3 linked regions of the Homo sapiens genome follow. The protein of the gene in region 1 interacts with the protein of each later gene in a pairwise test. Each region holds a gene or a part of one and is shown on either strand. Other genes may lie near its edges.

Region 1 (3,653 bases):
AAGAATAAGTTCCTGGACCTCAGAAATCTCATCTGGGGCACTGGTGGCCCTTAGGCTTAGCTTGAGGGGAGGCTGGTATGGTCCCTTCTTAAAAGAGAGTGACTGTGGTGAAATGAGTTAGACAGATCGGTGTTACCCAGGGCAAATCATTCTACCACCCTGAGGCGTATCTATAAGATGGAGTTAAGGAGTCACTGGTGTGAAGATTAAACTATGAATGACACCTGGCATATGGTTGACATTGAGGAAACCCACGTTTCTTTTTATTTTCTATTTCCCTGAGAAAGAACTAACAAACTGTTGGTGCCTGTAGTGCAAGCCATGGTTATATTTTGCCCTAGGATAATGTCACTGGTCACCATCTTTATGTCTTCTACATTTGCTATCAATTCAACTGTTGTTATTTCCCCAAGTGAATTTGATAGAAAGCTCAAGCAATAATCTGCAAGTTTTCTCGGGACCTGACAGCTGGACTTCCTTATCCTCCACACCCCATGCCAGCATCCTGTCTGTACCCCACACCAACGGACCAATCAATCCAGGGCCCAGGTAAGACCAACACCATCAACTCGCTCATTGGTCGTCTTGGGGGTTTACTTTAGCACTGGGGACTCAAGTTCATTCTTTTTCCTAGGGTGGCTTGGTCTAACCTATTGTCTTGACTTCTAAAACACTAAGAAGTCAAGGTGGCAACAGGGTGGAGTTCTTTCATAAGGGGAGAAACAGCTCAGTCATATACTGTTTCTTTTATTTAGAAGGATAGGCCGGGTGCAGTGGCTCACACCTGTAATCCCAGCACTTTGGGAGGCCAAGGCAGGTGGATCACCTGAGGTCAGCAGTTCCAGACCAGCCTGGCCAACATAGTGTAACCCCATGTCTACTAAAAATACAAAAATTAGCTGGGCATGGTGGCGCATGCCTGTAATCCTAGCTACTCAGGAGGCTGAGGCAGGAGAATCGCTTGAACCCAGGAGGCAGAGGTTGCAGTGAGCTGAGATTGCGCCATTGCACTCCAGCTTGGGCAACAAGAGTGAAACTCCGTCTCAAAAAATAAACAAATAAATAAATAAAAGGATAAAGACATTATGGCCTGGGATCATTTGTCTTAAACCAGTCAGAAATACTTTAAACTATGGTGGTAGCAAATAGATACTGACTGTAGAGGAATTGAAGAGGAAAAGTATAAATATACACTGAGAAGTCAAGACCCATGATTGTCCATTTTCCCATGAGTCACCCATCCTAAAAGGGGGACATATTGTGGATGCCTGGCCTCACGACCCTGGTAACAGAGTTAAGTGTAGCATGGGGGACCCCATGGTTTAATCCTCACACTAGCAACCTGCATTAAGTTCTGACTTCTAGAAATCTGAGTGGTGAAGTGGGAAGAGAAGGCCCCTTTGAGTCTGACAGGCAGGGGTTTGAGTCCCAGTTCTACCTCTTAGTAGTGATTTTGTGGCTTTGGGCAATTTTCTTAGCCTTACTGAGCTTCAGCTTTCTTATCGGTATCATGGAAATAATATGACCTACTTTGCAGAGTTACTGTGAGCATCAAATGCAGAAATGAGAAAATGCATTAACGTGCTTTGTAAGCAGTAACATTCTGTGTAAATGTCAGCTATTATGTTCAATATGGTTATGCAGAATTTTGAGAAGGTCCAAAGTGGATTCAAAATTAAAAGATGAGGCTTGGCGGGGTGCGGTGGCTAACACTTGTAATCTCAGCACTTTGGGAGGCCGAGGCAGGTAGATCCCCTCAAGTCAGGAGTTTGAAACCAGCCTGGCCAACATGGTGAAACCCCATCTCTACTAAAAATACAAAAATTAGCCAGGCGTGGTGGTGCATGCCTGTAATCCCAGCTACTTGGGAAGCTGAGGCAGGAGTATCACTTGAACTCAGGAGGCGGAGGTTGCAGTGAGCTGAGGCACTGCACTCCAGCCTGGGCAACAAGAGCGAAACTCTGCCTCCAAAAAAAAAAAAAGGATGGGATTTGGGAAGACATCAGATGACTTGTGATTTGTAAGTCCAGAAAAAGTTAGGAAAGGTTAGGAGAATGTAGTGGCTTAGAATCACCTGGGGTTGTTGTTAAAATGCAGAATCTGATTGGTAGGTTTGGGTGGGGGCCTGAGATTCTGCATTTCTACCAAGTTCCTGGGTGTTGCTGATATTGCTGTGGCCCACAAGGGTGTAGAGCTGTGCTGTCCAGTGCAGCAGCCACCAGCCACCTGTAGTTGTCAAACACTTGAAATGCAGCTAGTCCAAGTTGAGTGTAATACTCACATAGGATTTTGAAGATTTAGTGTGAAACAAAGAATAAAAATCCCAGTTTTTTATATATATATATAAAAAAATATAAAATATATATACCACTATATTACATATATTTTTATATTTTTAAATATAATATAGACTTATATATAAAATAGATAATATATATTTTAATATATATAATTTGTATAAAAATATATATTTTAATATCTATAAAATATATATTAAAAATATATAAATATATAAAAATATAACAGTATATGTAAATATAGATGTTATTATGTAAATATTATGATGTAAATATATACATATAAATATATATATTTACATCAAATGCATGTTGAAATAATATTTTGAATATTTTTGTTAAATAAAATATTAATAAATTAATTTTTTTCTAAATGTGGCTACTAGAAAATTTAAACTTACACATGTAGTTGGCATTTATGGTTTGCATTTTGACGCTGATCTAGAGGATCATTTGCATTTGACACTGATCTAGAGGATCTGAGGGAAAAACATTGATTTGGGCTGTGGTAGGAAGTGAGAAAGAGAGTGAAGATGAGGTTCCCTGAAGATATTAAACAATCATGTGCCAAGTTGTATACTAGATACTTACATATATATAAGTCATCCATATATAAGTCATCTGTAGTACTCAAAGACAACTATAAGGCAGGTATTAAAATTCCTATTTTGCTGATGAAGAAACTGAAGCTCAGAGGCCTTAAAAACTTCCTGAAGGTTCTGCAGTAAGCAGTACCTCTCAGAGCCCATGGTTCTCCCACTGGCCCAGGAGGCATCAGAAAGGGTCTGTAAGAGATAATGTAGAAGAGCATCTTCTGAAGATTGGGGCCAGAATCCCCATAAGCTGAGCTAGCTCAGAGAGAGCTCAGAGGATGGGCTGCTGAAGGTTTCATATGGTCCAAAGAGGCCTGTAGCATTGAAAAATGGCACCAGGTGAAGGATGGCATTGCCAACTCTGGCTTCCCTGTTGGTGTGTTTAACTCATTCCTGACTCCATAAATATTTTGTTAGAAACAAAACAAAACAAATGTATTCAATATTGCCATTGGATAATAAGCATATTATCAAGCAATACAGTGTTGGGCAATGCAGAAACTCTAAAATGTAAGAAACATAGTGATGACTACAGGCCGAAAACATTGGGTTCATTGCACCTGTTCCAACTGCATCTATATTAAGGTGCAAGCTTGGCTGTACATTACAGTCACCTGGGAAACTTAAAAAAATCCTCGTACTCAGGCTGCATGCCAGATCAGTTCAATCAGAATCTCTGGGGCAGGGGAGTGGGGTGAGAGTGGGATCCAGGCACCAATATTACTTTAAAAACCCCCCCTAGTGATTCCAATGTGCCGAATGT
Region 2 (3,653 bases), on another chromosome or scaffold:
CAACACGATCTCTGGTCGCAGTCCTGCCAATACCATAGCTTTATATTCCTCTGATGGACTGAGTTCTGTGCGGACAATATCTAGCTTTCCAGAAAGGGTACTGTTGCAGGCAGGACAGATAGCTGGTGAGCGACTAAACTCACCACTGCCATGCTGATCACAGAAGATGTGAGAGCAGGCAGTGACCCATGCATAGCCAGAGAGTTTGATGCGACACTTTCGATAATTACAAAGCAGCATGTCTTCACACAAAGACATAATAGGATAGTGAGGTCTCCAGAAGCTGAAGAGAGGCCTAAGAAGGGGTAAATAAAAAGGCCAAGTAAGTTAAATTGCAATGAAAATAAAAGTAAAAAAGAAATATAACATGCACGTTTTTATCATAAAATACTGCACATTTTATTATATTCCTTGTATTTATTATAATTGATATATTGATTTCAGTTACTCAATAATATTAATTGTGCTCGTTTGTCCGGTTTTCTAAAAACGCTTTAAGGACAAAGGTAAAGACAAAGGTGGTTACAGATCTTGCTAACGTCAAAAATAATATATACGTGGGCCAGGCTCAGTGGCTCAAGCGTACAATCCCAGCACTTTGGGAAGCCAAGGCAGGCGGGGTCCCTTCAGGTCAGGAGTTCCAGACCAGCCTGGCCAACATGGTGAAACCCAGTCTCTATTAAAAATACAAAAATTAGCCAGGCGTGGTGATTCAAGCCTCTAATCCCAGCTACTCGGGAGGCTGAGGCAGGAGAATCACTTGAATCCGGGAGGCAGAGGTTGCAGTGAAGTGAGATCGCATCACTGCACTCCAGCCTGGGGGACAGAGCAAGAATCTCTCTCATAACATGTATATATATAGGCTGGGCGCGGTGGCTCACCCCTGTATAATTCCAGCACCTTAGGAGGCCAAGGCGGGCGGATCACGAGGTCAGGAGTTCGAGACCAGCCTAACATGGTGAAATCCCATCTCTACTAAAAATACAAAAAATTAGCTGGGTGTGGTGGCGGGCGCCTGTAGTCCCAGCTACTCAGGAGGCTGAGGCAGGAGACTCGTTTGAACCCGGGAGGCGGAGCTTGCAGTGAGCCGGGATCGCGCCATTGCACTCCAGCCGGCGACGGACTCCGTCCCAGAAGGAAAAAAAAAAAAGTTGCCTTGGCCCTCCAGGTCGATAGAAAAGAACACTCGCACACCTTTATCCCAATAGCCCCGCTGAGTGAGTTTCCTCAGGTATGTCACCTGGCAGCCACAGTTAAGATTAAGAGGCCTATTTTACATCCGGCAGAGTAGGGGGCAGCGGGAAAGCAGAGGAGCTGGGAAGCTTTAAAGCTGAGCCCTCTCTCACGCAGCAGAGGCGCAGCTAATTCCGAATCTTCCACCAGCTGGGAGTAAGCGCCAATCTAACTTCTGTACAAGCTGCGTGAGGGGCAAGTTTTAGAGAAACAGACCCACAGAAATTACACTCTGGAATTTTCAGCCAGCTTTCCACGCTCAGTAGAGAAAATAATAGTAACAAATGATACTTAATCTGAGGCTGAAAGAAAAAGCGCGGAAAAACTCCGTTGCCTCCACAGCTCCACAAGCGAAGATTCCAGGATTCTCTGCGAGCGAGTGCTTCAGGGAACTACGCCAGAGCGCGCATGCGTGGGGTTGCCCCGAAGCATCCTGGGACCTGCCAGGCTGAGGGAGTTGCGGGCCGCAGCTCCGGCTAAGAATCGGGAGAAATTCCCAGAAACAGAGTGACAGCTGTAATTGGACAGCTGGCACCTCCATGTTGAGGTAGTCCACCATTTTATTTTTTATCCACCTTGGAATAGACATCTTTCCACTCTCACACATCCTCTATACACATTTAAGGAAATTATAATTTTCCTTGAGTCTGCATTACAAACATGCATTACAGCTCTTTAAATTAAGCGATAGTGGGCCGGGCGCGGTGGCTCACGCCTGTAATCCCAACACTTTGGGAGGCTGAGGCGGGCAAATCACCTGAGGTCAGGAGTTCCCGACCAGCGTGGCCAACACGGTGAAACCCTCTCTCTACTAAAATACAAAAATTAGCTGGGCGTGGTGGTGGACGCCTGCAATCCCAGCTACTCGGGAGGCTGAGGCAGGAGAATCACTTGAACCCACGAGGCAAAGGTTGCAGTGAGCCGAGATCGCACCATTGCACTCCAGCCACGGCAACAAGAGCGACCCTCCGTCTTTAAAAAAAAAAAAAAATTATTTAATTAATTGATAGTATTGAGGGTCAGAACTTTGAGGTGACCTACCTGCGTGCTCTCCTGGAACTGCTAGCAGTGTTTAAATGATTGCACTGTGCCAGTTTTACTCTAATGCTGTTGCCTGTCATTTTCTTTGCCCTTCTGTGCTTACCCATAGCAGCTGCTTTAGGTAATTATTTTCTGCTTAATCTATATGGATCTGTTAGAATTCAGATTAAAAATTAACCTGAAGAGGAAAGCTAGACGGGTCCTCAGGATATAAACCTTAATGAAGCTTTTTTTTCTTTTCCAGATAGGGTCTCACTCTGTCGCCCAGGCTGGAGTGCTGTGACGCGATCTCGGCTCACTGCAACCTCCGCTTTCCGGGTTCAAACGATTCTCCTGCCTCAGCCTCCCGAGTGGCTGGGATTACAGGCACATGCCACCACACCCCGCTAATTTTTGTATTTTTAGTAGACAAAGGGTCTCGCCATGTTGGCCAAGCTGGTTTCAAACTATTGACCTCCAGTGATCCACCCACCTCGGCCTCCCAACGTGCCGGGATTACAGGCGTGCGCCACCATGCCCAGCCTTATACCGTCTTTTGTAGCCATCTTTCCAGATGTTGTGAACCTATTATGAATTAGTAACAGATGCAATTAGCCACGCAGTGGACATCAAACCCTGCAAACCCCTGAGTAGTGCCAAACCATAATATCAAATCTTTTTCCTTCAAACAAAAAACTGTCAAAAACTGTGCAACTTCCTACAAGGTTTGTCATCTGTTTCGGAGTAATTAGGCCTTTGTACATTTCCTAAAATATCTTCTGATAACTTTAAAGTGGTAATTTAATTTTGGTATAAACCAGTTCCAAAAAAAGGAGATCTTCATGTGTGAACCATATACTCCCTAACATCTGTTTTTGGCTGTTTGAGCCTTCTGTGTGAATTCTGGTTTTAACTATGCCAAATGTAGAAATATTAATACAAAAAATAGTACAACTCATTTAAAGTTGAAAAATGCAAAATATTCTAATTTGACTAGTACCTAACTTTGTGATCCTAGCCAATTCCCTTTGCACTGCAATATGATCACTTCCTGGAGATGTATCTAAGTTAATAAATACTTAACATTAATTCATTTTAACAACATGTACTGCAAATATGCTACAATTTATCCATTCTTCTAATAGACATTGATTGCGGGTTTTTACAATTAAAAACAATACTGCAATGAACATTCTGTACATGTCTCCTTGAGTCCACGTGCCAAAAATTCCTCTAGAATATAACACCCAGAGCCTGGGTTAGTATATCAGCAACTTCAAATCAACTAAATGTTGCCAAACCACTCTCCAAAGTAAAAGCATAAATTTCACTGCCACCAGCAAAGTATAGAAGAGCCCAATGCTATAAATTCAGCAACATGCACACATGTCAAGTTGTTT
Region 3 (3,653 bases), on another chromosome or scaffold:
CGGAGGTTGCAGTGAGCTGAGATAGTGCCACTGCACTCCAGCCAGGGCGACAGAGTGAGACTTTGTCTCAAAAAAAAAAAAATTATTTCATTCTTAAATAGCAACAGTTACTTACTAAAGACCTCTATGTGTCTGTTGGGCACTGCATAGCTTCTCAAACCTTGGAATCACGATTGCACACTGCTACTCTCATTTCCCATTTCATATTGATTTTTGTGTAGTGCTTGCTTTTTTATAACAGCAACTGCCAGAAACAGCTTCTCAGAGATATGAAGATATTGAACGAATTTTATCATGGTCTGATATTGACATTGCAACTGTCTTAAGCTTGTAATTCATGTAGTAAGTATCCTTGTGTTGAGTGTTACTGTGTTTTTCTCAAAAGTTTGAGGTATCCCATGGCACCCTTGTGAGTTTGTAGTAGTGCCCAGAGTGTACTATTTGAGAACTGTGGCCACAGGCTAATTGGTTTTTTGTTTGTTTGTTTGTTTTCATTTGTTTGTTATGAGATGGAGTTTCACTCTTGTCACCCAGGCTAGAGCACAATGGCATGATCTCGTCTTACTGCAACCTCCACCTCCTGGGTTCAAGCGATTCTCCTGCCTCAGTCTCCCGAGTAGCTGGGATTACAGGCATGTGCCACCAAGCCCAGTTAATTTTTTTGTATTTTTAGTATAGACGGGGTTTCTCCATGTTGATCAGGCTGGTCTTGAACTCCTGACCTCAGGCGATCCGCCTGCCTCGGCCTCCCAAAGTGCTGGGATTACAGGCGTGAGCCACCACACCCATCCTGCTAATTATTTTTAGTGTATCAGTCAATGTATTGAAAACGACTGTGCCAGATTCTGAGTTTGCAAGGTGGAAAAAAGTCGTCCCCCTGCTCTTGTGCAGCTTACAGTCTAGTGGGGGCATAGATGTTAAATATAAAATTATTTGTATCAAATTGTAAATTGTGATAAATGCAATGGAGGAAAAAGGGTGCTACGAAAGAATAACAGGGTACCTACTTTTGATTAGGAGTGATATTAAGCTGGGATCTGAAGGATGGGCAAGAGCCTGCTGGGCAAAGATTTTTTTAAAAGGGTATTACTTGGGGGGAACAAACTATACAAACACCTTGAACTTGGAAGAAGCTTGACACGTTTATTGAAAGAAACCTAGTGTGATTGGACTAAATCAAGAGGGAATAGTGCAAGATGAGGTTGGAAAAGTAGGTAGGGACCAGATTTTATAGCACCTTAGAGGCCTGAGTAAGGGTTTTGGATTTTATTCTAAATACATGGAAATTGAAGCTTGGGAGATGGGGGATTAAAAATAATAATAAATAAATACACCTGAAGCATTTTAAAGTTTTAAGTAGAGAAGTGGCTTGATCAGATTTTAAAAGATCACTCTGGAGGAGAACAAGGACTGAAGTAGTATCCCAGTTGCAATAGTCCACATGAGAAAGAATGGTAGCTTGGTCTAGGAAGTGACCCTGGAAAGAGAAAGAAAGGATAATTTTAAGGTACATATTGGAAGTACTTCACTTTGGAATGGATTAGATATTTGGAGTAGGGAGCAAAGGGTATCAATAATAACACTTTGGTTTTTGGCTTATGCCATTTACTGAGATACAGAAGCCTGCAGCAAACACAGGCTAGGGGAAAAGAAGTTCCATTTTGATGTGTTAAGTTTGAAGTCCGTTTTATGTATCAGTGTGGAAATGAAGAATTCACAAATGTACAAATCTGGTGCTTAGTCAAGCATCTGGGCTAGAGGTACAAATTTGGGAGGGTTGACATTTAGATCTTCCCTGGTCTTCACACAGCTGATGGTATAATAAATTAAAATATTGTAGATTTGTTGTTCTTTAATGGTCTTACACTTTTTTTCCAAGGAGTTGGAAAACTGGAAACCTCCCAAATGAAAATTTTCAAATTGAAAAATACGAATCACAAACAGCCCAACCTTGCCTTATTCTTCAGTTTGTTTTTTTGGTTTTGTTTTTTTTTTGCGACAAGGTCTCGTGCTGTTGCCCAGGCTGGAGTACAGTAACGTGCTCAGCTCACGGCAACCTGTTTCCAGGGCTCAAGAGATCCTCTCACCTCAGCCTCTCACGTAGCTGGGACTACAGGCATGTGTCACCACGCTCTGCTGATTTTTAAATTTTTGTAGAGACAGGGTCTCACTGTATTGTGCAGGCTGTTCTTAAACTCCTGGGCTCAAGTAATCCTCCTGCCTCAGCCTCCCACAGTGCTGGGATTATAGGCATGAGCCACCACGCCCAGCTCTGCAGCCTTTTATCCTGTTTTTCATAAGGTCTTTTGTTGCCATTTTTATTCCCTTTTTCAGTCCTTAGCTCTTATCTTTTTTTTCACCTAATTTTATCCATATCACTGTCTCTGAATTCCCTGGTGGCAAGCTGCTTTTATATGCACTAGTAACGAAACCAGTGAGACTTAAGACAACTGTGTTTTCCTTATTCCTGGCTCATTCTCTTCTTGTGGCTTGATTCCAGTAAAAAAGGAAGATGCTCATCACTGCTGGATGGGACATCTTATGACTTTTCTGCTTTCTAGTAACTAGAGTTTTCCTTTTTTTCTTCCCCGCCCAAGAGACAGTCTTGCTCTGTCGCTGAGGCTGGAGTGCAATGGCGCGATCTCAGTTTACTGCAACTTCCGCCTCCCATGTTCAAGCAATTCTCTTGCCTCAGCCTCCCGAGTAGCTGGGATTACAGGCACCTGCCACCATACTCAGCTAATTTTTGTATTTTTAGTAGAGACGGGATTTCACCATCTTGGCCAGGCTGGTCTTGAACTCCTGAACTCGTGATCCACCTGCCTCGGCATCCCAAAGAGCTGGGATTACAGGCATGAGCCACTGTGCCCAGCCAAGTTTTTTTTTTTCCTCATCTATACTTTGCTCTCCTTGATCTCATTGGAAAAACAAGCAATAGAGCATAAGCTTTGTGTAACTATGGGGGCTTGCCTAACCCTTGATAAGCCATTTTCTCTGTAATAGAGTGAGGTATTATCTTCAACTATGCAGCAGCTGTCCCAAAACTAAAGAATATTTTCCAAGATGCTACAAAAATCAGTAACTCTGTATAAGAGTATCATGTAGGATCTACATTCTTTATGAAATAACTGGCAGTTGAAACCACGACGGAATTCTTTTAGAAATAGACTTTCCTCTTTCACTTGGATCTTTTTTTTAAATTTTCTCCTTAATTAATCTCTTGCAGTGACCTAGAGTCCCGCAGGGATGTGAAGAGAGAAGAAGGAGAGGCCTTTGCTAGGGAGCATGGACTTATATTCATGGAAACTTCAGCCAAAACAGCCTGCAATGTTGAAGAGGTACTATTTGGAAAACAGTGGGGAAAGCTCTTTAGAGATTACACCATTATTTGTCCTTGTATTCAGAATTCTCTTCTCCTATAAGAAATTGGTAAAGAAAGGATGTCTTGGCCGAGCGCGGTGGCTCATGCCTGTAATCCTAGCGTTTTGGGAGGCCAAGGCAGGCAGATTGCGTGAGCTCAGGAGTTTGTGACCAGCCTGGGCAATATGGTGAAACCCCATCTCTACTAAAATACAAAAAACTAGCTGGTCATGGCGGCGTGTGTCTGTAGTCCCAGTTACTCGGGAGGCTGAGACAGGAGAATTGCTTGAACC

Evidence for each region.
Region 2: the proteins of TBX19 (region 1) and CCNB1IP1 interact in a two-hybrid assay, tested with the Homo sapiens proteins (one large-scale study listed by BioGRID).
Region 3: the proteins of TBX19 (region 1) and RAB2B interact in binary tests that used the Homo sapiens proteins (3 or more experiments, as listed by UniProt).

The regions. Positions count from the first base shown.
Region 1 is NC_000001.11:168,308,329-168,311,981, forward strand, and holds part of TBX19 (T-box transcription factor TBX19), read left to right. Parts: intron 1-413; coding exon 414-549; intron 550-3,653. UniProt on the Homo sapiens protein: Transcriptional regulator involved in developmental processes. Can activate POMC gene expression and repress the alpha glycoprotein subunit and thyroid-stimulating hormone beta promoters.
Region 2 is NC_000014.9:20,316,266-20,319,918, forward strand, and holds part of CCNB1IP1 (E3 ubiquitin-protein ligase CCNB1IP1), read right to left. Parts: intron 1,710-3,653; exon of another isoform or gene 1,529-1,709; intron 296-1,528; 5' UTR 259-295; coding exon 1-258. UniProt on the Homo sapiens protein: Ubiquitin E3 ligase that acts as a limiting factor for crossing-over during meiosis: required during zygonema to limit the colocalization of RNF212 with MutS-gamma-associated recombination sites and thereby establish early differentiation of crossover and non-crossover sites.
Region 3 is NC_000014.9:21,463,341-21,466,993, reverse strand, and holds part of RAB2B (ras-related protein Rab-2B), read left to right. Parts: intron 1-1,123; exon of another isoform or gene 1,124-1,477; intron 1,478-3,226; coding exon 3,227-3,338; intron 3,339-3,653. UniProt on the Homo sapiens protein: The small GTPases Rab are key regulators of intracellular membrane trafficking, from the formation of transport vesicles to their fusion with membranes. Rabs cycle between active GTP-bound and inactive GDP-bound states.